6 separate regions of the Homo sapiens genome follow, and regions 1, 2, 4, 5 and 6 are each reported to be linked to region 3. Evidence: microRNA targets listed by miRTarBase, many of them from high-throughput screens and not tested one by one. Region 3 holds a microRNA gene; each other region holds the end of a gene's coding sequence.
What was found. Region 3 holds the annotated microRNA hsa-miR-181b-5p (AACAUUCAUUGCUGUCGGUGGGU, at 2,254-2,276, shown strand). A microRNA usually pairs through its seed, bases 2 to 8, with sites in the 3' UTR of a target mRNA and lowers its output. Matches are read on the target gene's strand: a 7mer-m8 pairs with bases 2 to 8, a 7mer-A1 pairs with bases 2 to 7 and ends in A, and an 8mer does both.

Region 1 (5,078 bases), not on the chromosome of region 3:
GATGACTGTGGCATCATAGACTCCCAAGTCAACGCCATCTTGCCTGCCCTGAGCCGCTGCTTTGAGCTCAACACCTTCAGCTTCTGTGGAAATCCCATCTGCATGGCCACCCTGGAGAACCTGCTGAGCCACACAATCATACTCAAAAACTTATGCGTGGAGCTGTATCCTGCCCCCCGGGAGAGTTATGGTGCTGATGGTACTCTCTGCTGGAGCAGATTTGCTCAAATTAGGGCTGAGCTGATGAACAGAGTGAGGGACTTAAGGCACCCCAAGAGGATCTTGTTCTGTACTGACTACTGCCCTGACTGTGGCAACAGGTCATTTTATGACCTGGAGGCAGATCAATACTGCTGTTGAATGCCTGCCTATTTGGATGGGTATGTCAAACGCTTTCTTCTGGACACTTGGAAACTAAAACCTAGGTCTTAGGTACATCCTAAAGGGAGCACAGAACCCATCATTTCACACATAGGCTCTGAAAGTGGGAAAGGAAAGCTGATCAAGCAGGGGCCGGACTTGGGGGAAATGTTGCCATGGATTCGATGGGACTTTGGGGACCTGTGTCCTGTAGAGTCGAAAATGGGAATCTGAATGTCTAGAGTGGAATTCAGGCTTGAGAATACATGAGGGAGTTACTCTTGCATGGATGGTTGTAAAGAAACAATCAGAAATAAAGGAAAACTGAGCAGAATCTGTCTGGTGCCCTCTATTATTAAGTAACCTGTTTTCCAGTTTAAGCCTCAGGAATCTTCAGTTATTGATGGAAAAAACAAAAGGCACTGACTGAGTTGTCCAATCAATAAGATGCAGCCCAAGAAAATCAAGGCATTTAAATGAAATTTGGTTATTGTAATCAGTTTCCTCCCATTCTTTTATTGGAGACAGAGTTTCACTCTTGTTGCCCAGGCTGGAGTTTAGAGTGCAATGGTGCCATCTGAGCTGACTGCAACCTCCACCTGGGGTTTAAATGATTCTTCTGCCTCAGCCTCCCAAGTAGCTGGGATTACAAGCATGCACCACCATGCCCAGCTAATTTGTGTATGTTTAGTAGAGACAGGGTTTCCTCACTATGTTGGTCAGGCTGGTCTCAAACTCCTGACTTTGGGTGATTCATGCAAGTAGGCCTACCAAAGTGCTGGGGTTACAGGTGTGAGCCACTGTGTCAGGCTTTTTTGTTTGTTTGTTTTTTAAAGGTCTCCTGTCACTCAGGCTACAGTGCAGTGGCACAATCATACCTCACTGCAACCTCAATTTCCGGGGTTCAAGCGATCCACCCACCTCAGCCTCCTGAGTAGCTATGACTACAGCTGTGTGAGCCACCACACCTGGATACTTCTTTTTAGTAGAGACAAGGCCTCGCTGTCTTCCCCAGGCTGATCTGGAACTCCTGAGCTTGTGATTCTCCTGCCTTGGCCTCCCAAAATGCAGGGAGTATAGGCGTGGACCACCACGCTTGGCTTGGCCTCCTCCAGTTCTTCACTTCTTTAGATGTCTGTTAACTCCTTGTTAGTTTCTGTGGCTGTTCAGTGGGTTAATACACACTAGGTGGACACCAAAGGCCTGGAACATTGCTGGGCAAGAACAGTGAGCCAATCCACACGGAAAGCACCTTCTTCTCAGGGTCTTTCACCGCTATCCAGATGCTGAGACCCTGCCCACTCCCTGTGAGTCTCCACATGCTTCCAGAAGCCTTAGTTGGTGGATGTCAGCTTCACTGCACAAGGAGCCACTCTCTTCCCGCTGCCCTGGAAGGGGATGTCCATATTGTGTATTAGCTGGAGACTCTGGGCAGCATCAACCCTTGCTTGTTCTCCTGATGACCAGCAGCCCTTCTTGAATTAAACTGGTTGTAGCCAGTAAAGACAGCCACATTCCCTTTAAGTAAAATACTAAAACTATACAGGCATATAACACTTTTTAAATATTTCCATCTGACATTTTAAAAGTTACATCTTTTGGGGGAGCTAGGTCAGATTGATGAGAGATTTTCTCATAACACCTCCCCTCTCTCCCTATGAAGGAAGAGACTAGTGCAGCGTGTTCTGGAATCTGACAGCATCAAAGGGTGGATAACGATCAAGGGCCTGTGGGTGATGAGTGACCTTCCCTGTGCTGAGGAATTCTGCATAATGGGCACCCAAGTGAAGGATCCTGCTGTGTACTCAGGGGCTGGTGTTGCTGTCAGGGATGTTAGCCTAGAGCCTCAGCTTCCTGTAAAATGAGGATGATGATGTCCAACAGCTTATGGGACCTTGGTAGGATCCAATGAGATGGTTCATGTTTAGGGCTTGGCATGGGGTCTGGCATACAGTAAGATCAATACATCTTGTTCTTTTTTCTCTTCTCAGCAGAAGTCCCAGCACTTTTCATCTTTCAATCTCACCTCCTTTTCCTGATAATAGAGAGGCAACAAGAACTCAGGGCATGCAATGGGGCTCAACTTCTACTCTCTGCCACAATTTCATCATGATTGCCCCAAAGAGCAGAGCCCCAGGAGCCAGCAGGGGGCAGGGTGGGCATTTCTGGACTGGATTCATTCATAATAAGATCAAAATTTCCAATCCGTATGTCTCGGGTGCCATCTGCTGATAGATCCGACCAGATGGTATAATTGAGTGTTGCAAGGATTATATTTTATGGTGTTTTTAAAAATGTACTATTATGAGCCAGGTGCAGTGAGTCATACCTGTAATTCCAGCACTTTGGGAGGCTGAGGCAGGTGGATCACCTGAGGTTGGGAGTTTGAGACCAGCCTGAGCAACATGAAGAAAACCCTTCTCTACTTAAAATACAAAAAATTAGCCAGGCGTGGTGGCGCACGTCTGTAATTGCAGCTACTCGATAGGCTGAGGCGGGAGAATCATTTGAACCTGGAGGTGGAGGTTGCGGTGAGCTCAGACTGAGCCATTGCACTCCAGCCTGGGCAACCCTAGCAAAACTCCGTCTCAAAAAAAAAGATAAAATAAGATTTATTATTATGGCCGGGCATGGTGTCTCACACCTCTAATCCCAGCACTTTGGGAGGCCAAGGCAGCCTCAGGATTTTGAGACCAGCCTGGCCAACATGGTGAAACCCCATCTCTACTAAAAATACACAAAATTTGCTGGGAGTGGTGGCATTCGCCTGTAATCCCAGGTATTCAGGAGGCTGAGGCAGGACAATCACTTGAACCCGGGAGGTGAGGGTTGCAATGAGACGAGATGGCACCACTTCACTCCAGCCTGGGCGACAGAGCATGAAAAAAAATTTACTATAATGTGAATACTATTAGAGTATAAATATTTGTGTTGTAATTTATGTATATGAAAGATTAGAACTTTTAAAGAATGCAACGTGATATTTCAAGAATGGTTAATGGCCAGGTGTGGTGGTTCATGCCTGTATTCCTGGCACTTTGGGAGGCCGAGGTGGGCAGATCACGAGGTCAGGAGTTCCAGACCAGCCTGGCCAACATGATGAAACCCCGTCTCTACGAAAAATACAAAAAATTAGCCTGGCGTGGTGACAGGTGCCTGTAATCCCAGATAGTCAGGAGGCTGAGGCAAGAGAATCGCTTGAACCTGCGAGGCAAAGGTTGCAGTGAGCCAAGAATGCACCACTGCACTCCAGCCTGGGTGAAAGAGGAAGACTCCGTCTCAAGGAGGGTGAGAAAAAGAATACTTAACTTGGTTTGAAATGTCAAAACAAATGAGATTTTAAAAACTAATTTTAAAGACACTGAACAATAATCATTTCTTCTTTAAAATATATTTAGAATAATACAATTTTAGCTTTGAAAGGAAACATTACAGTTTTAAAAAATATTGAGTTTATTTTATTTTATTTTATTTTATTTTATTTGGAGACAAAGTCTCACTCTGTTGTCCAGATTGGAGTGCAGTGGCATGATCACGGCTTACTGCAGCCTTGACCTCCTAGGCTCAGGTGATCTCCCTGCCTCAGTCCCCCTAGTAGCTGGAACAACAGGCATGCACCATCATGCCTGACTTATTTTTGTATTCTTAGTGAAGACCAGGCTTCACCATGTTGCCCAGACTGGTCTTGAAATTCTGGGCTCAAGCGATCCACCTGCCTCGGCCTCCTAAATTGCTGGGAGTGAGTTCCTATAGGCATGAGCCACCGCACCCAGCCTTGAGTTTATTTATTTATTTATTTTGGAGATGGAGTCTCCTTCTGTCATCCGTGCTGGAGTGCAGAGGTACGATCTCTGTTCACTGCAACTTCTGCCTCCAGGATTCCAGCAATGCTCCTGTCTCAGCCTCCAGAGTAGCTGGGATTACAGGCATGCAACACCACACCTGATTAATTTTTGTATTATTATTATTATCAGTTTTTAGTAGAGACAGGGTTTTGTCATTTTAGCTAGGCTGGTCTGGAACCCCTGATCTCAGGTGATCCACCTGCCTCGGCTTCCCAAAATGCTATGACTATAGACGTGAGCCACCACACCCAGCCTATTTTTTCCTTTACAGCAGTTTTAGATTCACAGAAAAACTAAGCAGAAACTGCAGAGTTCTCATCTACCTTCTTCCCCCTTCAATACACAGCACCCCCACAGGATCAGCACCCACACCAGCACAGAGCATTCATCACAACCAATGAGCCACAGGGACACATCATTATCACCCAATGTCCATAGTTCACATGAGGGATCATTGCTGGTTTTGTACATTCTATGGATTTTAACAAAGGGATAATGACATGTATCCACCATTAGAGCATCATGGAGAGTAGTTTTCTTTCCCTAAAATTCCTCTGTCCTCTTCCCATTCATCCCATTGTGCTCCCAACCCCTTGCATCCACTGGGCTTTCTACTGTCTCCTTAGAAAAATGCAAAAGCTTTTTCTGGAATGTCTAACAGGATGAGTCTTTTCAGATTGCCTTCTTTCACTTGTACAATAACGTGCATTTAGGAATTTTTCATGTCTTTTTACAGCTTTATAATAGTTCACTGACTGGATGGATCAGTTTGCTTATCCAGTCACTGACCGAAGGGCAACTTGCTAGCTTCCAAGTTTTGGCGATTATGAGTAAGTTGCTGTAAACATCCAGGTGTGGGTTTACTCACTTCAT
Region 2 (5,090 bases), not on the chromosome of region 3:
AGGGCAAGGGCAACAGAAGCTCCTCCTGGGGACAACAGCTGACATTATGGGGGCTCACGCTGGCATCCGCAACTCCCAGTGCCAACAGGAGATAGGTGGCTAAGCCCACCCACACACTAAGCCCTCACTGCCCCTTACGTGGAGGAGGAAACCGAGGCATGAAGTGCAGTGACTTGCCAGAGGGAGAGGTCAGCACCTGGCCCTGGCACTTGGGTTCCGCTACCCATAAGAAATCCACCCAGACACCCCAGACACAAGACCCTGCCGTTCTGCCTGGGAGGGCTCAAGCTATTCTGGGGCTATTTTCTATCCCACCAAGGCCAAATCATGAAACACATCCTGGCCCTTTCCCCCAGCTCACTCTGCCTAGTGCCAACTCCAACCAGCCAAGGTGGGCCACCCACAAAGCCACCAGCCTCAGGCCACTCTCCATGGCCTGACACCCCTTTCGCCACCACCCAGCTCTCCCCTCTCCAGTTCACCCTGAACCACATGGGAACTACAGGTACCTGGCACGCGTGGTGGCCTCCTGCCCTACTGGTTCGGCCTGCAGTCATTTCCAGTAGCACAGGAAATCAGGCCACCAAGCACTCAGCAACAGCTGACCAGTTACGTAAACAGTAACCTGTCTAGGACCCAGAAATACCACGCAACTGTTAAAATGATGTTGAGAACTGAATGAATGGGAATTACTTCCCATGCGTCAGAAACATTTGCAAAACACGGGTGAGTGTGATCTCAGTGTTTTCAAAATGTGTGTGTCCTGAAAAACACTCAAGTGAAATGCTAAGTCATTTCTAGGCTCTAGGTGACAGCATAAGCGACACTTAAAAACTGTTCTTTCTTAGCGTCTCCCTGGGTTTTGCAAGTCGTTTTTGCTTTTTTTTAGCCAAGAATAGGGTATTTAAAATACAAGCTCTCTCGGCCGGGTGCAGTGGCTCATGCCTGTAATCCCAGCACTTTGGGAGGCCAAAGCGGGAGGATCACTTGAGGTCAGGAGTTTGAGACCAGCCTGGCCAACATGGTGAAACTCCGTATCTACCAAAAATACACAAATTAGTTGGGTGTGGTGGTGCATGCTTGTAGTCCCAGCTACTCGGAAGGCTGAGGCAGGAGAATCGCTTGAACCCAGGAGGCGGAGGCCGCAGTGAGCCAAGATCGCGCCATTGCACTCCAGACTGGGCGCTGTCTCAAAAGACAAAAAGTAAAAATAAAATAAAATACATGCTTTCTCTAAGCTGTTCAAAAAAGAGTAAACTTCACTGGTGGAGAGGCCTTCTCGAGGCCCCCGGGGTGGAGGACCAGCTGCCCCTGAGGACTTACGCCGAGGCCTCGTGGATCTCGGTCCCATCGTAGACTCCGCATCCAGACAGCACCTGCGAGAGGAGCGGGAGCTGACCCGGGGGAAAGGGGCCGACCTGGGCGGCGGGAGTTGACTGGGGGGAAAGGGGCCGACCTGGGCCGCGGGCGCTGACCCGGGAAAATGGGGCCGACCTGGGCCGCAGGAGCTGACTTGGGGTGAAGGAGCCGACGTGGGGCGGCGGGAGCGGACCTAGGAAGAGGGGCCGACCTTGGGCAGAGAACAGCGAAGGCTGATCTCTGGAGGCGGGAGCTGACCTCACCCCCTCCGTCCACTCACCAGCGCGACCCTGGCCGCGGGGCGCGGCACGGAGAGGTGAAGGGCTGCGCGCTGGGAAGGCGTCCGACCGCCGGGGGACAGGGACGTGAATGCAGATGCCGCAGCGAGCCTCGAGGCCACCAGGACCCTCACAGCCGCCATTGCGGTGAGGACAGCGGGGTCGGAAGGTCACGCAGGGACAGAGCGTGCGCACCCACCCCTCTACAAACGCGTTGCTCGTCGGGACTGCGCCTGCGCAGCCTTCTGGGCGGAGCCAAGACCCGCCCCCGTCTCAGCCCTATCCAGTGAGTTCGCCGGTGGGCGGGGGCCGCGCCTGCGCAGAGCCTCCGAATAGAGTTCCGGGAACCCTGTCTTCCTTCCGGTGGTGGCTGAGGGCTCGTGCTCGAGGCTGAGGGATGCTGGTGACTCCCGGGGTCCCCAGCCCCGCCCCCATCGGACGCCTCCACAGGCGGCGCACCCTTTCCGCCATCCGCAGAGCAAGGCTGCCTCGGGGCGGCTCAGTCCGGCGCTTCTTACCTTACCTCCGTCTCATCCTTAACTCACCACGAGCGTCCAGGGTCCACATCCTCCTAAATGGCCACTCGTCTTAATCTCGGCGTCAGGACCCACGCGGGGTCAGGACTACCCCTCCGCTTCCATGACTGTCTCCTCGCGGCTCCGGCTCCCACGGAGCGACCCCTCCGGGTTTTACTGACCCCGGGATGTTGTATCCTGGAAACTGCAGTTCCACCCAGGGGCTTGATCTGGGTTAGTCTGGGGGCAAGTGAGCCGCCGATTCTGTTTGGGTTTTTTTTTTTTTTTTTTTGAGACGGAGTTTCCCTCTTGTTGCCCGGGCTGGAGTGCAATGGCGCGAAGTCGGCTCAACGCAACCTCCGCCTCCCAGGTTCAAGCGACTCTTCTGCCTCAGCCTCCCAAGTAGCTGGGACTACAGGCATGCGCCACCACGCCAGGCTAATTTTGTATTTTTAGTAGAGACGGGGTTTCTCCATGTTGGTCTGGCTGGTCTTGAACTCCCGAGCTCAGGTGATCTGCCCGCCTCGGACTCCCAAAGTGCTGGGATTACAGGCGTGAGCCACCATTCCCGGGCGCTGTTTGGGTTTGTTTTTTTGTTTTTGTTTTTTACGTTCACAGCATGGACGGTCAGTGTGAAGATCCCAGCTGCTCGGGTCCTAGCTGGAATTCTTCCATTAAAAAAATCTGTTTGTTATGCATGGGTTAGTTCACAGAGGAATAGCTGGATAAGTGCTGGCTTTTTCCCCGATTTACCCATTTTCAACCTAATAATGCAGGTTTTTGAAATAATGTGAATGGTTACTGCTGGCGGATGTTCACAGGGACACACCGGATTCTACAGACACATCTGATGATCTAGCCACGGCTGTCACTTTCCCCACTGCCGCGTTGTCCATCACTAGGACTTTACTGCCAATCCTTGCAAGATAGTGGGGAACTAGAATAACAGACATGGGACATTACCAGTTACAACCAAAGACAAGCTTGGCACATTTGACTGTCCTCGTTCCTGCTCCTCCGTGCCTGGCCCTCTTCAGGCTTCTCAGCTCCTGGGGAGCGGCCAGCCAGGGAGCATCAGCTGGTGGGAGCGATGGGGTTGTGGGATGGCACAAAAAAACACCAAGCGCCACTCAGAAAGGAAATGCCGAATGCAGACTCTCACTCAGTCGGTGTGGGGGCCAGGACCCTGTCTCTACCAAGTGTGCGGGAGCTGCCCCTGGCCGGGAGCTCCCAGACCCCACTGCAGAGCCGCAGCTCCAGTTGTCCCAGGGGCGACTACTCAGGTGTCCATCGCCATGCACATGTGACACAGAAAAGGGTGAGGCGAGGAGGGGGAACGCTGGAAATTGTTTCACGGAAAAGGGCGAGGCAAGGGAGGGGAACACTGGAACTTGTGCTTTGGGTAGGCGATAGCTAAGGATTCTCTCTCGTCTGGGTCACGGAGATTGTGCAGCCACAGAACACCTGGTGTCATCAGGGCCTGAGCTCCTCCCTTCTACAAAGACCTCTGGTCTGCAGGCCTGCAGGTACAGTGCTGTGGGCCACAAGGCACTGCCTGTCGTATTCATCTCCACTCTCTAGCACATCTGGCCTCACGCCACCCCCGGGAGGCCGGCAGGCAGATATCAGCTCCACTTCCCAGATAAGCAAGGGAGCCAGGTACTACCCAGGGTCTTGGGGGCCACACCGCTGGCGAGGGACAGGCTGGGCCTGGCAGACAGCACTGGCAGTCGGTGAAGTGCCCACCTCAGTGTCAGCCTCAGGTCCTGACCCTGGAGGCTGCTGTTACTGAGCTGTGGGGACCAGGATGCCCTACCATGATGGAGACCCAAGCCTCTCTCATGATGACTATTCCCAAGGGCACTGCAGAGGGGAGGAGCTGTCTCCTCCTCCGTGTGGCCCACGCAGAGCTGGTGCAGGTCTGAGTGAGCTCACCAAGACAGGCCAATCCCAGCCCCAGACTCCAAAGCATCCCCAAGAGGTCAGGGAGAGGCTCTGTGCCCCTGACCCCAAGGATATGCACAGGTCACAAGGCAGAGCCCCCGCTAGACAGCAGGAGCACCCTGCTCTGTCAGCCTGCTTCCCCAGGACGGAGGCCCTGGTGGTAAGGCAGGCAGGTCTTGAGCCCCCACAAGACAGCAGGATACAACATAACCCTTTTTAATCTGAAGTGTAGACTTCATCCTCACGTTAGAAAACTCCATCTTTTTTTTAATCCCTAAGTTCTTTATCAAACCTTTATGTTAAAGATATAAATAAGTCTCATACAAAGTTCATGTGAATACCTCTCTGAGACGCATTTTCAACATTCATCACCGTTCACACGGCCCCGCTCCTGGGGCCAGGTGCCAGTGCGTGCCGGCCCCTGGCGTGACCCGTCGGCTCGCTGTCCTGATGGGCTACATGTGTGCACAGGAAAAGCAAGTCACTACCACTAGTGACAGTATTTCAGCTGTTCTCTGGACCCCTCCTCTTTGCTGGCCCAGGTGGCACAAGGGTCCCATCTCCCTGGCAGGTCTTAGCCGGCACAATCCAACGCTGCAACCGGCTGGCTCTAGGCCAGCATCTCTTCTTCTGAGTCTCTGCCTCCTCCTCCAAGCAGATGCAGGCTGTCATCTTCAGATGCTTCTGCCTCCTCCTCACTTCCCAGCGGGTCTAGGGAGCGTTTTGTGCCCCGCTGCTTGGAAACTGCTAGTGCGTACTGCATGTTATAGTGGTTCCAGCTACAGCTGTCAATCACACAGGGATGGTCAATGCCAGCAACGCCCAGGCCCTGGCCTGTCCTGCACCCAACCACCTCCTCTGTGACCCCTGAGAAAAGCAGCAGGGGCTGGACATGCCGGTTCCTCCACCCCAGCAGCCATTTTTTTCCTCTTTTCCCTGCCCCAACAATCTGGTTCTGCCCCATCCAGCCCTGGGGCAGCAAAGGCCTTCAAGG
Region 3 (5,091 bases):
ATTCCTAGATCTGTCCCATTGTAAATCACATATTCTGAAGATTCATATTATTAATTCATTTTTCAAATTTTTCATCACAGACATTCAACAGAATCAAAAATAACCACTATGTCCTATAATGTACTGGTATCGTTTCAGCCAGAACAAATGACATCTGACATTTTAGTTACACTCTGTGTTCTCAACTAAGAAGAAATGCAAGCTTTACATTAGGTGGTGGGTTTTTGGTTTATTTTTTGCTTTTTCAATATGGAAAATAGCTTGTGGACTATCACTAACACCTCTGTGGTAACTTAGTAATGCAGGATCTCAGCAAAGGAGATCATCAATCATGGAGGTCGAGGTTTTTCATCTTCCCCTATGACCTCACCTATAGACCTACCTGCTATTATTATAGGCAAACAAGTAGAAGAAATTTACATGTTTGACTTTGGCTCTGCAGTGATGGGTCTACTCCTAGATATCAACAGTAAGTTCTGTAGTAGACAACAGAAGCAGTATGATGAGTGAGCACTGGAAACATGAAGTCCAGTATTCAAATTCTGGCTTATAACCTTGGCTCCTGGCAATGTAACTTTAGGCAAATCACTTCAAGTTTTTTCATCAGGAAAATGTGGGTTGTTGAGAATTTAATGAGATAAAATATACAAATCCTAGTATATAGCAGATCCCCAATATATGTTAATCTCTTACCCTTGTTAACAATTAAAATACTACTGCAAAATCAGGTATTTTACATTTTTAGAATCACAAAATAATACCATTCAAAGACATTTTCTCAGACATTCATTTGAGTCTGCTTGTACAAATTACTGCACAGTCTATCCCACAGTTCATTAGTTCTCTGCTGCACACAAATTGATTTTATAATTTAAATACTCTCGACTTGAAACCCAGAGAGGAATGTAAGAGCATCCATCAGCGGTGGTCTCACTGCTCACTGGTTCTTGGGATGTGGATGGGAGAATGAAGAAGGGCTATCAGGCCAGCCTTCAGAGGACTCCAAGGAACATTCAACGCTGTCGGTGAGTTTGGGATTTGAAAAAACCACTGACCGTTGACTGTACCTTGGGGTCCTTACAGACGACACTACATTTCCTGAAGCAAAAGAGCAAGCTGTACCTTCACATGTCACATGAGTTCACCAGAAATGGTCCTGCAATCCCCCAAATGTGGTCCAGTGAATTTTATTCCTACTGCTCACTGTTCCTTGCTTTCTGTTGTGTGTTTTATTATTATTTGTTTGTTTTTACAAAAAAAGTGTTTCATTTCAACAAGGTAAGGAGCAGTCCATGATGATATCTAATGTACCTACATGTCTCCTAGATATGCACCATTCTGGTGAGAAACAGGACGTAGCAAGTAAAAATTTATTAAAAATACGTATTTTGTTTTGGAATAAAATCCAGTTAAATAATTACTCCCATTTCTCCCACATCCTCTCAAAATTTTTAATTAGGGGCAAGGGGAGGATTTAATAAGCAAAAATAGCACAAAATTATCCAATTGTGACAGTTCTTATCACATTTCACTTTGAATTATAGTTAATATGGTTAATTTTTGATATCCCAGTTAGAGCATGAGCTATTGCCTTACTAGTGCCCACATATCCCCACATATGCTTATTTAAATGTTTGCTAAATTCAAGCAAAAACTTAGCCCTGGAGTCAGTCAGATCTGGGATGAATCTTGGCTCAAGCCCTTAACTAGTTATTTGACCCCCTAAGCAAGTGTCTCAGTTTTCTCACATATAAAACAGAGGCTAAGAGTACCTATCATGGAGTTTTGAGACTCAATGAGATAATATATAAGGTGCTTTGTACCATTACTAGCCCACAGCAAATGCTCAATATATGTAAGCTGTTATTATTAAACTCCAACATAATCTGCTAATTTACCTCAAAAAAGCACTCATACTTCTCAGTTCAAAACAAAGAGGAAAAGCAGGTCCCTCAGCTGTGGTTTACAGGTACTAATATGCAAGCACTGCCTGTGTGGCGCAGTGCTACCTGTGAGGTTCTCCAAGCACTCCTTCCTTCTCTGAACCACAGCTTCCTCATCTGCAATAACCTCCCAGCTCCAATGTCAATGTTATGGACACCTGTGTGGGCCCTCAATCATGCAGATGGCTGGTTACTAAGGGAGAAGCCAGACACACAGACTTCAAAGAACTGAGATGGAAAAGAAGAGCCAGGAGTCAGCCAGGGAGGGCAAAGGCAACCCCACCAACTGAAAACACTGATGGCTGCACTCAACATTCATTGCTGTCGGTGGGTTTGAGTCTGAATCAACTCACTGATCAATGAATGCAAACTGCGGACCAAACAACCCAAAGGAAGCAAAAGCATGTGCAGAGAGTCGCCTGAGTGCAGCAGCTACTGCTGTGAGTGGGAGCTGCTACTATTTCCAAAACACTAGCTAAAGCTTTTCTTGTTCTCCTTGGTTCTAACATGGAGTAAGTTCTCTAAATTCCTAGTACTTTTCTCCTTTTTCAATAGTCTAGATTTAAGGAAATGATATTTTATAGGAAGAATTAAATACATATCTGGATATCACATCACATTTTAAAAATCAGTACATTCAGAATTTCTAAACAGAATCATATGCTTATTATTTAGAAATTCAAATACAAAAATATACAAAGTAAAAATTGAAAATCCCTTCAATCATCATCTGCAATCCATTTCCTCGGAGGAAAACATGTATAATTATAATAAACTTATTAAGATAATAAATATCATAACTAGAATTTATTTTATATCCTTGAAGACCTTTATCCATACATACACAGATAAATAGCTGTAATTTTGCATGTTTTGGGGGGAGAGTGGCTTAGACAAAAATAAGCTCATTTTTACCTATTGTTCTATAATCTATTTTGTTATTCAGCTATATATCATAGACTTCCACAACAGTCTTTTATGTACTCGTCATTCTTTTAAATGGCTATATAGTATGACTTAATATGAATGTTCTGGTTATTATTCAGATGTACATCAATATTCTCTTTTGACAAAAACTATGAGGCTCATTCATTCTAACCTTTGCAAACCATGTCCCTCAAACAGGAAAAACACCTAAGTGAGATAGAAGATGTACATTTTTCTTAACAAAAAATTTAAATGTAGTATCAACTCTCTAAATCCTGTAACATGAGATAAGCCACTAAATCCCATGTTAAAGAAAGAAAAACAAGGCCCTTGGTCATGAATAATTTATCATACACTTAAGTCTAAGAAGAAGCAGATTCTCATAGCAAAAGTCAAATAAGACAGTAAGAGAAGAGTCTTGTCAAATTAGCCTTGACAATTAAGCAAGCCTTAATTTGACAAGGCTTTCCTGTCAAATTAGGAAGGAGAAGTGATGGGGTAATGAGACAAGAACCAGAAAGAGAAATCAAAGCCAAAAGAAAAATCTAAAGAAAACTATGAGAGTTCAGAGAAAATATCAGGTTCAAGCCAGTGTTTCCCAAACTTCTTGTACACCAGAATCATCTAGAGTTGCTTTTAAAATGGCAAATTCCTGAGCCCTACTCTAGACGAGGTGATTTTGGGTCACTGGAAGCTGGAAGCAAAGTAAATAAAGTTCACTAGCTTAACATCGGCTTCCTGCCCCCATCCCACCACCACATTTCATGTCATCCACTTTTCAACTATTGCCCAACCTTTTGTGTCACCACCTGAAATCGCCACTATTCTGCTGAGTGCAGACAGGTAGAGTCACATTTGTGCTGCTTTTAAGTATCTCCAGACTACATAAAATTTTGCACCATGTTTGGTGGCCAAATATACATCAAATTGTGTCTGATGTTTTATGGAAATGAATGGATTTGGATTTACGCTATCTAAAAAACTAAAACCTACCCAAAGAAATTACCAAAAGGTTTTTTTGTGTGTGTTTTTCTTTCGTTTGTTTGTTTTTTTGAGACAGTCTTGCTCTGTTTCCCAGGCTGGAGTACAGTGATGCGATCTCGGCTCACTGCAACCTCTGCTTCCTGGGTTCAAGTGATTCTCGTGCCTCAGCCTCTCAAGTAGCTGGCCCGCCACCACACCCAGTCAATTTTTGTGTTTTTAGAAGAAATGTGTTTTTAGTAGAGCCATGTTGGCCAGGCTGGTCTCAGACTCCTGACCTCAAGTGATCCGCCCGCCTCGGCCGCCCAAATTGCTGGGATTATAGGCATGAGTCACCGCGCCCGGCCCGAGGGGGTCTTTATAGAAGAGTTTTTTGTGAGACTGGTAGACACACAGAAGGTACTCCACGCAGTCTTGTTTTTCAAGATGCTGTGCATTCTAGGCATTTATTTTTAACCAATTATTTCCAAAATTTCTGAAAACATTAGAAAAGAATGTCTGACACGTACTTTGAAAAATGTACACTTGAACAAGCATGCTATTTATTTACAGACTATTACATAGTCTTTAAATATGCCAATGAAACAATTATATATTTCATTAAACCAAATCCAAGTTTTCTCTTGGATAAAACTAAGTACTACAAGAAGGGAGACAATTATGTAAGTTAAAGGGTGTTTTCTGCAGATAGGCCTCAAAATAAATACCTGTAACAGAAAAATTACATGGCATGTATAGGGGACAGGAAGAGAATAGTCCAGAGACTGTATTAGGGAGTCATAAGGAATGGCACTGAAAAGGTAAAAGGACATATTACAGAAGGACTTGTGAGCAAGGCGCAAAGTCAATTAGTCCAACAGAGAGCCGTTTTAAATGCTAAACTCAGCAAGGAGACAATGAAAGCAAGACTGGGAAGAGTCACTAAGCAGATGAAGTGAGGGGAAGAAAAGAGAAAAAAGAGAACTTTCTTGCACAAGTTAGCAGGGGTAGAACTGAGTCAACAGGAATGGAATGAAAGGAAAGGTTATCTCAAAAAGGCATACTTTGGCTTTTGTTTTTCAAAATAAAAGCCTACTGGCTGACCCCCTTCCATCATCCTGTTCGGTGTATAGCCTCACAGATATTTCAAGATACTTAAAATGCATGTATTTATACTTAGAGAAAATAACATCACAAATTATACATAATGTTCTCTAGCTTTTTTTTTTTTTTTTTTTTGAGATGGAGTCTCGCTCTGTCA
Region 4 (5,000 bases), not on the chromosome of region 3:
TATGATGGTAGCCGAAAGTTTGATATAATCTTAAGTGTCTAACCTCACAGAGGCTGTTACAGGAAACAGGCAAAGAATGTCCTCCTTTTTGTGTCACTTGCTTCTTATACAAAAGCAATGCACAAAATGTTTTGAGTAATCAGTAGCACATTATGGCATTAAATCTTCATTTTAATAATATCTACTGCATAATAGCAATTTATCATTTCCATTCATGGAATCCTGCTTATATATAACACTTAATTTCTGACCATACATTCTGTTTAAAATGTTGCATGACTTAGGGAACAAATGTAACTTGAGAGACTATGGAATGATTTGCTCTAAAACATGGACAGTAAGCATTTTAGTGTAGGAGGAGGTATTTTTTGAGTTTATGAATGCTGTTTTATAATCTCTACTCATAGTTTTAAAGCAGTGATTCAAAAGAGTATATATCATTTAATGAATGTTTTTGGTTTTCTAGAATTCTTTGCTGAACTGGATAAAGTAATGGGCCCTCTCATCTTTAATGCAAGCATCATGACAGATCTAGTTCGTTATACCCGGCAGGGACTGCACTGGCTTCGCCAGGATGCCAAGTTGATATCTTGAACTGAACACATTCTCGTTGCCTCTGATTTTCTCCACAACACTGTGTCACATCACGAAGGAAAACTGCCATAACATACCACCTAGTCGACACTAAGAATGAGGAATAGTTTTCTCCTCGTTGGTTCATGTGTTGTTGTTTTTGATAATCCAAAGCGATCATGTCAGTTGGCCCTTTAATATTTCCAATGTGAAAGATTATTTAAATGCTTTTAAATCTGCAGCACATTGATAAGATGGTTTCCGTGAGCTATGATAAGATTGAAATTCCAGTTGCAATTCATAACTAATGAATTGAAATTTTATTTATTTTAATTTTTTTAAGTTCCCAGATTGGGGCTAGTTTAAGACTTAGTTATTTCTGCCTATAAATTTACTCTGTTGAATATTTAGCATAAATTTAATGTAGACATTTTTATTTATATACCTTGGGAGCTTTATTACCTAATATCTTTTTGTGGTAGCTGTTCTAAGAGTAAGAATTGGTTCGTCTAAAATAAGGACATATTCTTTCTACACCTGCTACCTGACCTGATATTTGAAATCTTAACTCCAATTTTATTATTGTGGAATTTACAGTTAGTATTAAGGATATTCTTCTACACATGAAAAAATCACTTAAATATGAGAAAATGGCATTCTACATGTATGTACTATGAAATGTGTCTGATTTGGTATGCATTATTTCAAAAACTGTGAATGTGTGTTAATAACACTACAGCAATCACACAGTGACTATAGCTTGCATTTAATGCATTACAAAAGAGGGAGGACAAACTTTCTAGAAGAAGCATTTCATGTTGAAGGGTTTCATAAAAGGACAATCCTGAACGTTACGGATTTTATTAAAACCATATGTTATTTTTTGTTGCTAATCATTTGACACTTAATCGAAACAGAATAAGTTACTGTGGAAAAAAGGATGATCCAACTCCTGAGGATTGCCGCCTGTGTGTCTTTAATTGATTATCTTTGATAGTTAGAGTTATTTTTCAGATTTTTCCCCCTCATACTGGATTGTGATGCTCTGATATGAGCATGCAATGACTGATACAGAAATAGGCTGGAGCTTCGGTGTGTGCTTTTGCTATACAGCTTACAGTTCTAATGCCTGATGTAGAGATGATGAATTTCTCCTTTTTAAACCTATCTTCTGTTTACTCCTTTTGCATTATGAAGGCCCTCTTCAATGATGTATGTTTCTGATGGAATCAGAAAATTTCACACTAGAAAAGTGTACCTAACTTGATTCAGTGTGAGCTCTTGGGACAGGGAGTGGAGCCAGGGGTAGAGCTTAAAGAAGCTGGCTCTGTAAGAGTTGTATATCAAAGTACCTTTTGCTACAAGGTGCATATAGAAGTCTAAGATAAGAAATGTACCCTCTATACTTTATTTTTCATGCCCCTATCATGTTTGGTGTGCCTTAAATCTTACCTTTAAATGAAGACTCTATGGATTGTTTACAAATGAAGTTTTACACTAGGACCAGATCGTCCATACATGATTGGTCTTCTACAATAATAATGTTCAATTCTTTCATTTTAAATCTTTCTTTAGGGTCATATAAAGATTAGTTCTTTCAGAAAAGCTATTGCTTTGGTACATGACTTAGTCTAACCAGTTGGGTAATGCTGCTTTGAAAAATAGTTTGTCCCTCTCCCCATTCCAAAAATGAATCCATTCAGTCAGAAAAAAAGATTATCCTACTATTTGTAGATGATTGCTAAGGCTTGAAATAGGAAAGGGGAAAGAAGGGATAGAAAAGTTTCAAGTCCAGTAGTGCAGTGAATCCTTTGTGTTTGAGACTTTTTTACACTTATTTCTGAAGTTAGTGAACTTTCATTGTCCCTGTGGCCTCATATTTATAGAGCTTCTTAACTGTTTTGTACCTCAGATTGTTTTTAGATGTCATTGAAGATTGAGATGTACAAATTATGTTGAATTTAACCTGTTTCTCTTGGAGAAATTGCCTCTGATATCTTTCTAACTTAATCTTAGTGTGTTCTAGGAACAGTTTTCCATAAGAGGACAACTTCTCAATGATCATGATAGTTATTTAGTAAGAAATAATGGTTGTTAATCAAATACATGTTATGTCTTGTCCTTCTCTGATTTTTCTGACTTGGATTCCTTAATTTGCAGTGATGTCTTAGAAATGGAAAAAGTATCCTCTGGGCTTTCAGACTTTCAGCAACAACAGCCAGTGGGATACCTCTGAGTTCTTGTGTTCTAGTCTCTTGTATGTCCTGAAAGGCAGCAGGAGCATTTTTGGGGTCACACTGATATTTTGTTAAAGCAGAGTTTCCTGCATGGTTTATGGTGCTGCTCTAATATTTTCTCTTTAAAACTGTGTCAATTTTTGGAGAATGAATTTTTCAACCTTTTCATTGTGGAGGATTTTTCCCACAAGGTAGTAATGGGCAATGGATCAAAATCCTATCATAAATGATTGAATTTTCAATGTCATAGTGTGTGGAAATACTACTCCCTTTCCTCCATGTCTATCTTCTTAGATGTTCTGTCTTTGTCATCATCTGCTCCAGCACATACTTTGGACTCCTTTACAGGTGACCTTCCCCCCTCCCTCCTCAATAGGTGTCCTCAGTGTTTTCTAAGCATTTAAAACTGAATTTGACAAGTGGCTAAAAACTTAGTCTGAGACTTGTACTTAGTATATGGTTAATTATAGAAACAACAACTATTTTAAACAGTTACTCTGTTGACTGCTCTTTATGACTACACTTGTATGCCAGGAGGCAGCAGCCTATACACCATTAGACTCTTTACAAGCAACCAACGAACCAATTGCAGTGGTTGCAGTTGTCACAGTAGTCTTGCCTGGGCCAGACTGGGCTGGGCTGTGGGAAGCATTCCCCTTCAGGGGAGTTTCCACAGCTCAGCCCAGGCTCCAGTCTGGCTAGAGAGCATCCAGCCCATTCCTTGCCTCAGTGCCACCTTTTTCTGGGCAAGTAGCCAAGAAGTGACTTTATATGCAGTGAGTACTTCAGATAAACTTACAGCTACAGCTGCCGAAGAGTGGAGAAGGTTGACCACCATTTATTTAATTCTCTAGTGTAAAAACAATTGAGAGCAGTGTGCGTGAGCCCACAGACACCTGTGTTTCTGGGAGCTCTGGCAGTGGCGGATTCATAGGCACTTGGGCTGCACTTTGAATGACACACTTGGCTTTATTAGATTCACTAGTTTTTAAAAAATTGTTGTTCGTTTCTTTTCATTAAAGGTTTAATCAGACAGATCAGACAGCATAATTTTGTATTTAATGACAGAAACGTTGGTACATTTCTTCATGAATGAGCTTGCATTCTGAAGCAAGAGCCTACAAAAGGCACTTGTTATAAATGAAAGTTCTGGCTCTAGAGGCCAGTACTCTGGAGTTTCAGAGCAGCCAGTGATTGTTCCAGTCAGTGATGCCTAGTTATATAGAGGAGGAGTACACTGTGCACTCTTCTAGGTGTAAGGGTATGCAACTTTGGATCTTAAAATTCTGTACACATACACACTTTATATATATGTATGTATGTATGAAAACATGAAATTAGTTTGTCAAATATGTGTGTGTTTAGTATTTTAGCTTAGTGCAACTATTTCCACATTATTTATTAAATTGATCTAAGACACTTTCTTGTTGACACCTTGAATATTAATGTTCAAGGGTGCAATGTGTATTCCTTTAGATTGTTAAAGCTTAATTACTATGATTTGTAGTAAATTAACTTTTAAAATGTATTTGAGCCCTTCTGTAGTGTCGTAGGGCTCTTACAGGGTGGGAAAGATTTTAATTTTCCAGTTGCTAATTGAACAGTATGGCCTCATTATATATTTTGATTTATAGGAGTTTGTGTCTGGGTCCCAGGAACATCTACTGGGGATGACTGTTAGGCAGCTTGTGATGATGTTTTTTAAAAAACCTAAGTAACTTGGGGAGACAGAGCATTTCAAACCCATATAGACACCTATCATACCTGTATATCCCCTAATACATGGAACATAAATTTCATTTCAGCTTTATGCATTAATGTATTGAAGAGGCAGGCTTTTTTTCCAGTAATAATACTGTACATCTAAGGTTGCTATTCAGTAAAACTAATAGAAGAGATAATTATTGAATACCTTGGAATATGTAGTGAGAAGAGGCCAAATTTTTCATGTTTGTGAGCATGTCTTTCAGATACTCGCTAATGGAGAAATTCACTTTAGACCTCTAGACCCCAAAACCAAGTTAGCAAGTGACAAAAAGTAAATTATTAATAGTCTGTAAAGTGGATGCTGGTCTTACAAAGCTCCTATTCACATGAACCCTATGGTTAATTAGAAAGAACTTGCTGTCTCCAGAAAAGGGAATGGAAATAATAACTATGTATCTTCTTTTCATGTAATTTGGTCACAGA
Region 5 (5,091 bases), not on the chromosome of region 3:
CTAAACTTACTGAACCCAGAACCTAGGTCTACCCTTCTCATTCTACAACTCCCCTCTTCCACACTGTCATTGCTATTCCTTAATTTTTTTTTTTTTTTTTTTGAGACAGAGTCTTACTCTGTCACCCAGGCTGGAGTACAGTGGCATGATCTTGGCGCACTGCAGCCTCTGCCTCCCGGGTTCAAGTGATTCTTGTGCCTCAGCCTTCTGAGTAGCTGGGATTACAGGCACATGCCACCACGACCAGCTAATTTTTGTATTTTTAGTAGAGACGGGATTTTCCCATGTTGGCCAGGCTGATCTCGAACTCCTGACCTCAGGAGATTTGCCCACCTCGACCTCCAGAGGTGCTGGAATTATGCGCCTGGCTTGTTATTCCTTAATGTATTAAGACGTTACTATGTTATCACTGGCTTCTGGTTGAGTGAAAAGGATGCCAGTACTTCCTAAAATTAATTAGCTATAAATGTATACAAAATGTATATATTTGTATGTCTATGTCAGGCTCTGTGGCTCTTGCCTGTAATCCCAACACTTTGGGAGGCCAGCAGGATTGCTTGAGACCAGGAATTTGAGACCAGCCTGGGCAACATAGAGAGACACCAGCTCTACAAACATTTTAAAAAAATTAGCAGGCATAGTGGCACATGCTTGTAGTACCAGCTACTGGGGAGGCTGAAGTGGGAGGATCTCTTGAGCCTGGGAGGTCAAGGCTGTAGTGAGCTGTGATCTTATCACTGTACTCCAGACTGGGCAAAAGAGCAAGACCCTGTCTCAAAAAACAAAACAAAAAACCCAAAATGTATGTCTAGATGCCTCTTTGTAACATACCTTGCATGTGAATATATGTTTGGGAAGAAATATTGGAGAATCATATAGTAAGGCCCATATACAACTTGATAACTCATGCATTAATGTATAAACACTGAAGAAAAATTCTAAATGTGATTCCAAAAGTACTTCTAAGGTTATCAGACACTATAAAATTAAGATTCTTTTAAGACAAAGAATATTCACTGTTTTTAAAATTTAAAGAAATTTAGAAATATTCTTCAAAAATTAGAAATTAATGTAACTTTTAGGCCGGGCGTGGTGGTTTGTGCCTGTAATCCTAGCACTTTGGAGGCCAAGTAGGGTGGATCACTTGAGTCCAGGAGTTTGAGACCAGCCTGGGCAACATGGCAAAATCTCATCTCCACAAAAAACACAAAAATAAGCTGGGCATGGTGGGGCATGCCTGTAGTCTCAGCTACTTGGGGGTCTGAGGCAGGAGGATTGCTTGAACCTGGGAAGTCAAGGCTGAAGTGGGCCGAGATCCTGCCACTACACTGCAGCCTGGGTGACAAAGTGAGACACTCTCTTAAAAAAAAAAAAAACTATGTTATGTTTATGTACTCTTGAAATACTGGTAATTTGAACACAACACAGTGAGAAGGAATTGGTGCCTGAAAGTGAATTATTTTACCTGGTTAAGTTTGCTTCATATTTAAGATTGAAATTTAGAGTCTGGACATGGTGTCTCACGCCTGTAATCCCAGTGCTTTGTGAAGCCAAGTTGGGAGGATCGCTTGAGGCCCGAGTTTGAGATCAGCTTGGGTAACATAGTGAGACCACGACTACAAAAAAATTAGAAAATTAGGTGGGTGTGGTGGTGTGCACCTGTAGTCCTAGCTACTTCGGAGGTTGAGACAGGAGGACTACTTTAGCCTAGGAGTTGGTCAGTAATTTTCTTTAGTACAGACCTAGATACAATTCTTACCCAGAATGGCTTAAAATAGAGTTTAATAGTTTAATTTAATGTGTTTGCATGTATGGTGAGTTACTAATATGATCAAGATTCAAATAAATCTCCAAACAATTATACAAAACAGAAAAAAACAAAACACTTTATTTTCCACAAGGAAGAGCAATAGGAAAAATTAAATCATTTCCCACATATTGTTTTCTTAAAACAGAGCCTACAAGGACATATTCAGCACCAAATAAAAAAGGAAAAAAAGAGAAATTACAAACAGCCATAGAATATAATCTATAAAGCAAACATTTAATATTGCACTTTGTTTTGCTAACATTTTGGATTTTACTTTTCCTAATTGAAAAATCAGGAATCTATCTTGAATACTGGAATACAACTGTGAACCTCACATCTTATGTCAGGAATTGACCAATATTTTTAAAAAAGTAATGCCTCTAAAGAAATACATTTTAAAGGGGAAAATAAAACTTTATTTGATAAAGTTTTATACATTTAAAGTTTTATCACATTTTGTGATCCAGTGCCAATTATCAGAATATTGGTCATTCTTGCTTCATGTGTTATTTGTAAGAGTATATAATGACAAGTATTCCAATGCTATGCATATCAACAATTGTTCCCTAGTCAGTTAGACGTAAGAGAGAAAAGGGATTTTCTGACAATCCCCCTCAAACAAAAATAAAACCACCAAATGCCCTTTATGCCAAATATTCCATTAGCTTTTTTTGAGGGGGACATTCACAAAATGATTCAACAATAAAAAAATATTTCACCCCCATTTCCTTATTATCTAGTATTAGTTTGCTACGGGAGCCCAAACTCTTTAACCGAATCACTTAAAACGCGATTCATTTTTACACTGGGCTTTCTTCACCCTGTCAGCATTTGTCAAACATGAATTGTCTTCCATGTTTTCTTAAAGGCCACTTATGGAAAAGCCTATTTGTTTTGTATGAGCTTTAAGACAGTATTTAACCAGGTCAAGCACCAAGCCAGAGCTACTATTATTTTCAGCCACTTTATTAACTGTGGGGTTAAATGGCAGGATAGATGTAACACCCATTTTACACGTATGTTGCAACATCAGAGATGCTGGTTTTCTTTAAAAACATCAGAGCTGAATTCCTTCTAAAATACAACAACAACAACAACAACAAAATAAGTACACTTGGTACCTTGGAAAATGCTGAAATGCTATCATGAATGCTGGTATATTTGTTATGAGCCAACAGAAAATTACCTTTAATATAAACTATAACTTACTGATGTGATTGTTCTTCCTATGTAATCTATACATAATCAAAGTGAGTGATTTCTCATGTTTAGCAAATTGTTCTTTAGGTAATGAAAAACAGTATTCTCATTAGAAAAACACAAAAATCCAAAAGATTTATCGCAGCAAACGTTCTAGTATTTTAAATTTTGAAGTTACTTTTGGAATAAAGTCGAGTTTTCATGCCATACCAAGCTTGAGCAAGACAGCAAAGGTACAAATTGAGCTCTCTATTCATAACCTCAATGTATGTATTCCTGCTCATTAATATACTTTGCACCAGCAAAAGCGATTTCCAACATATGTGTTTTGGAGGTAATTAAGTAACTCTGTATAAAAATAAATGCACTTTTCCCTCCTTTCCCCAGTGAATGGAAAACTTCCATACTTTCAAAATAATAATAAAAAAAATAATTTTTAAGAGCAACAGCCCTCAACTCTTTGCTGGTGCCTGCCATACTGCCTTTCTTCACTCCATTCTTAGCTCTGCTAGTTTCTTCTTGTATGTCATGATAAAAAGGGAATGTGGGTGTGTAACTTTTGTGTATGTCCCGTTTCCAAATTTCCCTCTCCAAAAAGCCAACCAAATAAACAAACAAACAAACGAAAAAAACAGTGCAACAAAACACAAATAGCATTCCAACAGTTTGGCAAGTGATGCGTTCACCTGAGATTAAGTGATTTTAGGCAGTCAGTAACAAAATGCTGCTTTGCTGTAATAGTAGAAAGGCAACAAATTCTTAAAAGAAACCAAGAAGGTATACAATCTTGACAGTCTCTTATTAGCTTCCTCCTCTTATCTCTTTTTTTCCCACATTATCTGTTGCGTATCTACTACAGTAGGCTGCAAAACATACAGCAAAAAGGATTGGCTTGAAGGCATTTGATGTTTGTAAATAAATCCACAATTGGATCCAAGCTGAAGAGGTGATACATAGTCAGCCTAGTAGACAATTCTGAGCATGTGCATACGCAGGTAAAGTCCAGGCTATATTAAATAAAAAAAAATGTCAGTGCGTTTTTTCATGTTAAAGTTTTTTCAAAGCTTTGTTTTGTTCCTTGTTGTGCTGACCACAAACAAGTTTTAAGAGTATCAAGAGTCTGGCAAAAATAGAAAAAAAAAAAAAAAAAAAAAGAAGCTGTAGTGACGTCGAACCGCACAATGTAAGCATTGAGCATGTGCAAATTTTCAAATCAAAAGAAGGAAATCATCCCTCTTTACAACGTGATGTCTTGACACGTACGACCATAGGCTAAGAAGACTGCTCTGAGTATGTGCCAGTTTTAAAAGAGAAAAGCTTAGATCTTCAAGCATGTTGGAGCAGTCTCAGAATGTTGCTGTAGGCTTCTAAAGCATGATCACTGGTTGTTTCATGTATTCGCCATTTTTCTGGGCAAAAGTAATTCCACTTCCTCTGAAACGTGTCTCCAAGATACTTCTCTGTCCTCAGCCGGAAGAGATACAGTTCGGAACCCACATCAACTTGATTCAACCAAGTGTTCCTTCAACGAGAGGGGCAGGATGGTCTATCATCTGCTGACTGATCAGGATTTGGATCAATCTAGAAAGAAATGAGAAAAAAAGTTTACAGAGTTATTTCATGAGGTCTAGGAAGAATGTAGCAAATGACTACAATTCTGAATACTAGTCAAGAAATGTAATCAGAGAGCAAACACAGCTTGTTAGCATATTATATCCAATTATTCTCTTTTCATACGTGAAATGCTATGTGGGGAGGAAAGGGTGTTGGTACCTACAGTACCTGATATTTAATTACTAGATTAACAAGCTTTATAAAGGCATGTCTGAATAGTCCCCTATTTCACAAAAATTAACAGTAAAATTTTATCAGTGAATGAAGACTTTTACTCAGTACTTTAGTAGTACTTAATTAAGACCTAAATACACAACGTAGAATATCTTCATAGCAATCATCTTCTTTTGTAAAGCACCCCTTTCATCCTTCTACAAAAAAGTTAACTCATCGCTTCCTCTGACTTTGGAAAAATGAAATCGTATAAACAATGCTCTTTGTTTATACAATGTGCAAACAATTTGTTT
Region 6 (5,091 bases), not on the chromosome of region 3:
GAGTGTAAGGAATGTGGGAAGATGTTTTCTGGAACTGCAAACCTTAAAATACATCAGAATATTCATTCTGAAGAGAAACCTTTCAAATGCAATAAATGTAGTAAAGTTTTCGGCCGCCAATCATTTCTTATTGAACATCAAAGAATTCATACTGGAGAAAAACCCTACCAGTGTGAGGAATGTGGAAAAGCCTTCAGCCACCGAATATCTCTCACACGACATAAGAGAATTCATACTGAAGATAGACCCTATGAATGTGATCAGTGTGGGAAGGCCTTCAGCCAGAGTGCACACCTCGCCCAACATGAAAGAATTCACACTGGAGAGAAGCCATATACATGCAAAACATGTGGTAAGGCCTTTAGTCAGCGCACATCTCTTATTCTACATGAAAGAAGTCATACTGGAGAGAAACCCTATGAATGTAATGAATGTGGGAAGGCATTTAGCAGTGGCTCAGACCTTATTCGACATCAGAGAAGTCATTCTTCAGAGAAACCCTATGAATGTAGTAAATGTGGGAAGGCATATAGTCGGAGTTCATCCCTGATTCGACATCAGAATACACATTCTGAAGAAAAAGCCTAAGGTTGTTTTAAATCTATAAAATCAACGAATGAGGCTATCAAACATATGGCAAATATGTATTTGTCTATAATGTAAATTTTGTGTATATGGGACCATTTGATGATATGTCCCACTTTGAAAGCCAAAGAGCAAAAGTCATTGGTGATTTTGACCTCAGGATTTGAAATTAACTGAAGGAAACTCAGAAGTTTGGTCAGTCATTGTGAATGAAGATCATTTTTCATTTGATAAGAATTACTGGCTGGGCGCAGTGGCTTACACCTGTAACCCCAGCACTTTGGGAGGCTGAGACAGGCGGATCACGAGGTCAAGAGTTTGAGACCACGGTGAAACCCTGTCTCTACTAAAAAATACAAAATTAGCTGGGCGTGGTGGTGCGCACCTGTAATCTCAGCTACTGGAGAGGCTGAGGCAGGAGAATCGCTTGAACCCAGGAGGTGGGGGTTGCACCGAGCAGAGATTGCACCACTGCACTCCAGTCTGGGCAACAGAGCAAGACTCTGTGTCAAAAAAAAAAAAAATTACCGATATTTTACTTCCAGCATAGTTTTAAAGATAATTTATTGGTCACATACAACAAAATAGAATTGTGAAGTCCATTATAGGGCTCTGAGCCTGATTTAAGGTCACAGAAAAAAGAATTTGAGTCTGTTTCTCAGATCTAGAATTATCAAATATAAGGAACTTCTCGGCAAAACAGGGTGCCACTTTCAGCTGACAAACTTGTGGGTGAGAATAAAGAAAAGTGAGTCTTTAGGTAGATAAAGTTGTCACTCATAATGGTGTGTAACAGTAGAAACCTTACTTTACCATCTCCACGGATATGAGGATATATGATCTTCATGGTGTGAACGTCTAACTTGGCTGAGACAAGCTATCAGTAAAAGAACCAAGATATAGTGAAGAATGAGGATTTCAGAGCCAGGAGAAATCAGTATTGTTTTATTTGGAAATAAATCATCTATATTTATATGAGTAAACATTGGTATTTTCATGTAACAATACTGGTATGCAATAAGTGGTGTAATATGAGTTGTTATGGACTGAATGTTTATGTCCCTCCCAAAACTAATTATGTTAAAATCCTCACCATCAATGTGATGTTACTTGGAAATGAGGCATTTGGGAGGCAATTAGGATTAGATGAGGTCATGAGGGTGGAGCCCTCGTGATGGGATTAGTGCCTTTATAAGAAGAGACATCAGGCTGAGCCCGGTGGCTCATGCCTGTAATCCCAGCACTTTGGGAGGCCAAGGCGAGTGGATCATGAGGTCAGGAGATTGAGACAATCCTGGCTAACACGGTGAAACCCCGTCTCCACTGAAAAAAAATACAAAAAATTAGCCAGGCACAGTGGCATGTGCCTGTAGTCCCAGCTACTCGGGAGGCTGAAGGAGAAGAATCGCTTGAACCCAGGAGGCGGAGGTTGCAGTGAGCCAGGATCACGCCACTGTACTCCACCCTGGGCGACAGAGCGAGACTACGTCTCAAAAAGACATCAGAAAGCCTGCTTGCTCTCTGCACCATGTGAGGATGCAGGAAGAAGCCAGCTGTCTACAGAACAGGAAGAGAACCCTACGAGAACCTAACCATGCTGGCGACCTGTTCTCAGACTTCCAGACTTCAGAACTGTGAGAAGTAAATTGTTGTTTAAGCCACCCAGTCTATGATGTTTTGTTATGGCAGCCCCAGCTAATATATGGAGTGGAAAGCCTAGATTTATCTACTGGGTTCTTTTCCTGTCAGCAGTTCAACATGTGTAGTAGCTTTCAGTCTCTGCTGTTTGTGCCAAATATATAAGAAATAAAATCAGATAACTTTTTTGTAATTGGATCATACACAGTTGGGCTCTTCTGTTTAAGTTTTCCTTCTGTAAAAGTTATTTTTGAGAATACCTTAAGTTTAAGATGACTTTGTGGAATGTGTGGAATGTATATGGGTTAGGTCATCCTAACTTTGACCACAATTGATAAAACAACAATCCAAATTGTGAGGGGTGAGCATGCATACAGGATAGTACAACTAACTTCCCATTTAAACTTGTTCTTTCGTATTTGTAAAGCAAGCATAAAAATCCACCCCTTGGAGCAAATGGGTGAGCAAACAGCACAGAGGTAACTCATGGAGAGGCAGGTCTTTTTTCCCCCTCTTTTCTACACACACCCTCTAGCTTGTTAATTCCTCTGCCAATCTGCCATACAAATACATGTCAGTCCCAAATGAATTGTGACACACCTGAAGACTAGGGAGAAGCAAGAGAATGCCCTGCCCACAGTCACCTAATTTCCTCAGGCTTATCTCATTGCCTATTGCATTTCTTGCTCCTCTTGGGGATTTCAAGAGAGCATTAGAATGGCAATACATGATACAGTTAAACTTAACTTGGAATTACTTGTGAGAATTGCATATCCTCACTGCTTTATTTCTGGCCCAGTCAAAAATTCTCATTTCATCTAGTTTTGTCTATTCTCTCCTATTCTTAAGCTCTTAAAGGCATTTGTGAAAGTGCAATAAAGGTAAAGTAACTTTGGGTTCATGTGTCCTCCCAACTGCTTGGAACTCAATTATATCCTAATAGGCCGAATCATTTATTATTTAAATTATTTTGCATTACATGAATTTAAAAAATATATCCAAACTAAGAAGGAAATCAACTTTGTGTTTTTTTAAAGTCCTGAAAACTTAACTGGCAAGAAAAATGTTTTGCTTTACTCCTAGACTGTTGTAAGAGAGCCCATTATTACAGTATTTTGCTTTTAATAGATGCCTATAGATTTCCAGCTTTCATTAGCAAATATTTTCGCTGCACATTTGTTGTGCATGTAAACACCCTGGACCAATCACTGCTAAATCCTGTGGATATGTAAACTAATAAGACACTGTTCTTGCCAGCAGACACTTACAGTTTACCAGGGAATTCAGGTAATAAAATATGGAATTCTGTATAAGGTGCATAGGTAGTACGGAGAAGAGGATGATAAACTTCATGGTGATGGAGGTATGGGGACAGGGATTGTTTTTGCAGATAATATTAAAGGAAGAATGTGAATTTGCTAGGCACACAAAAGTTGGAAAGCTAAAGAGAAAATTACAGATGGATAAAATAATGGCAAACAATAATAAAGTATTTGGGGAGTTACAAGTTCCAGCGTTTAGTACAATGACACATAATTCAATGGTTAGCACTCAATAAGTATTTGAATGAATGAAAATATATTAGTATAGATGGGCTATCTGAAGCATAATCCAATGGGACCTAAACCTGAAGATCACCCTGACATTGAGATAGACCCTTGGGAAAACCAGTTCGGACCCTAAAGATAAGGAATCACTATTCATATCTGAAACCTATGGTGAACTTATAACCACAGCAACAACAAACCATAAACCTTCCTCAATTCCTAGCTATAATTATAAAAATCTTACCCATCCACCTCCCACACACTAAAGGCTACATAGAAAGACATGCCCTTTCCAGGAATTAAATCCATTTACCTTCATATCTATTGTTCTACAGAAGATACTTGGCTTTCAGGAAAAAAAAAATGCAAGGCATACAAAAATGCAAAAATGAACACCTTACCCCACCAAGAAACAAAATTCATCAGAACTAGACTCAGAAATACATAGCTGTTGGACTGACATGGAATTTAAAGGAACTATGAGTAGTATCTTAAGAGTTATAATGGAAAATGCACAACAGGCAAGATTAGATGGATAATTTGAGCAGAGACACAAAAACTATAAAAATAAAATGGGGCTGGGCGTGGTGGCTCACGCCTGTAATCCCAGCACCTTGGGAGGCCAAGGTGGGCGGATCACGAGCTCAGGAGATCGAGACCATCCTGGCTAACACGGTGAAACCCCGTCTCTACTAAAAAATACAAAAAAAAGTAGCCAGGCGTGGTGGTGGGCACCTGTAGTCCCAGCTACTCGGGAGGCTGAGGCAGGAGAATAGCGGGAACCCGGGAGGCGGAGCTTGCAGTGAGCTGAGATCACGCCACTGCACTCCAGCCTGGGAGACAGAGCGAGACTCAGTCTCAAACAATAACAAAAAGAATAAAATGGAAATACTAGAAATGAAAAAACTCAATAAGCACATGAACAATTGTCTTCAACAGGCTCATCAATATACTTGACATAGTCAAGGAAAAAGTAAATGAACTTGACGTTAGGACAATAAAAGTTACTCAAACTGAAACATAAGTGGGGTAGGGTAGGACAAGAAGGAACAGAGAATCCAAGAGCTCTGAGAAAATATCCATTGGTCCAACACATACACATAATTGGAATCCCAGAAGATACAGAATAAATGGGACAGAAGAAATATTTGAAGACATAATGGCCAATATGTTTCCAAAATTTATGAACCCAGAAAACACAAATCTATGAAGCTCAGAGAACCTCAAGGAAGGTAAATATTAAAATCACTCACACACACACACAAACACACACCACCCCAGCCATATTATGTTCAAACTACTGAAAATAATCTTGAAGCAA

Region 1: miRTarBase lists PRAMEF4 as a target of hsa-miR-181b-5p. Seed matches in the 3' UTR shown: 7mer-m8 at 592-598.
Region 2: miRTarBase lists PWP2 as a target of hsa-miR-181b-5p. Seed matches in the 3' UTR shown: 7mer-m8 at 4,458-4,464.
Region 4: miRTarBase lists AFF4 as a target of hsa-miR-181b-5p. Seed matches in the 3' UTR shown: 7mer-m8 at 1,288-1,294.
Region 5: the mRNA of ARRDC3 is a reported target of hsa-miR-181b-5p. Seed matches in the 3' UTR shown: 7mer-m8 at 2,491-2,497.
Region 6: the mRNA of ZNF667 is a reported target of hsa-miR-181b-5p. Seed matches in the 3' UTR shown: 7mer-m8 at 1,633-1,639.

What each region holds. Positions count from the first base shown.
Region 1 is chr1:12,874,826-12,879,903 of GRCh38, reverse strand. PRAMEF4 (PRAME family member 4) reads left to right here. Exons shown (of 4, transcript NM_001009611.4): 4 at 1-692. The coding sequence ends at 360. Among named protein-coding and RNA genes, the nearest start is that of PRAMEF4, 8.8 kb to the left of the region's middle.
Region 2 is chr21:44,130,388-44,135,477 of GRCh38, reverse strand. PWP2 (PWP2 small subunit processome component) reads right to left here. Exons shown (of 21, transcript NM_005049.3): 21 at 4,297-4,881. The coding sequence ends at 4,707. GATD3 (glutamine amidotransferase class 1 domain containing 3) reads right to left here and starts at 1,795. Exons shown (of 7, transcript NM_004649.8): 1 at 1,640-1,795; 2 at 1,324-1,376. The coding sequence starts at 1,780. RefSeq lists enhancers at 712-1,239, 1,240-1,767, 1,768-2,295.
Region 3 is chr9:124,691,472-124,696,562 of GRCh38, forward strand. MIR181B2 (microRNA 181b-2) reads left to right here and starts at 2,239; the gene lies at 2,239-2,327. The region is part of intron 2 of NR6A1 (nuclear receptor subfamily 6 group A member 1); the gene reads right to left. The region is part of intron 1 of MIR181A2HG (MIR181A2 host gene); the gene reads left to right. It overlaps MIR181A2 (microRNA 181a-2), which reads left to right and starts at 971; the gene lies at 971-1,080. RefSeq lists an enhancer at 3,551-4,096.
Region 4 is chr5:132,876,653-132,881,652 of GRCh38, reverse strand. It overlaps AFF4 (ALF transcription elongation factor 4), which reads left to right. Exons shown (of 21, transcript NM_014423.4): 21 at 467-5,000. The coding sequence ends at 594. Among named protein-coding and RNA genes, the nearest start is that of LEAP2, 5.5 kb to the right of the region's middle.
Region 5 is chr5:91,366,866-91,371,956 of GRCh38, forward strand. ARRDC3 (arrestin domain containing 3) reads right to left here. Exons shown (of 8, transcript NM_020801.4): 8 at 1,766-4,591. The coding sequence ends at 4,535. Among named protein-coding and RNA genes, the nearest start is that of ARRDC3-AS1, 11 kb to the right of the region's middle.
Region 6 is chr19:56,436,659-56,441,749 of GRCh38, reverse strand. It overlaps ZNF667 (zinc finger protein 667), which reads left to right. Exons shown (of 7, transcript NM_001321356.2): 7 at 1-2,421. The coding sequence ends at 588. Among named protein-coding and RNA genes, the nearest start is that of ZNF583, 35 kb to the right of the region's middle.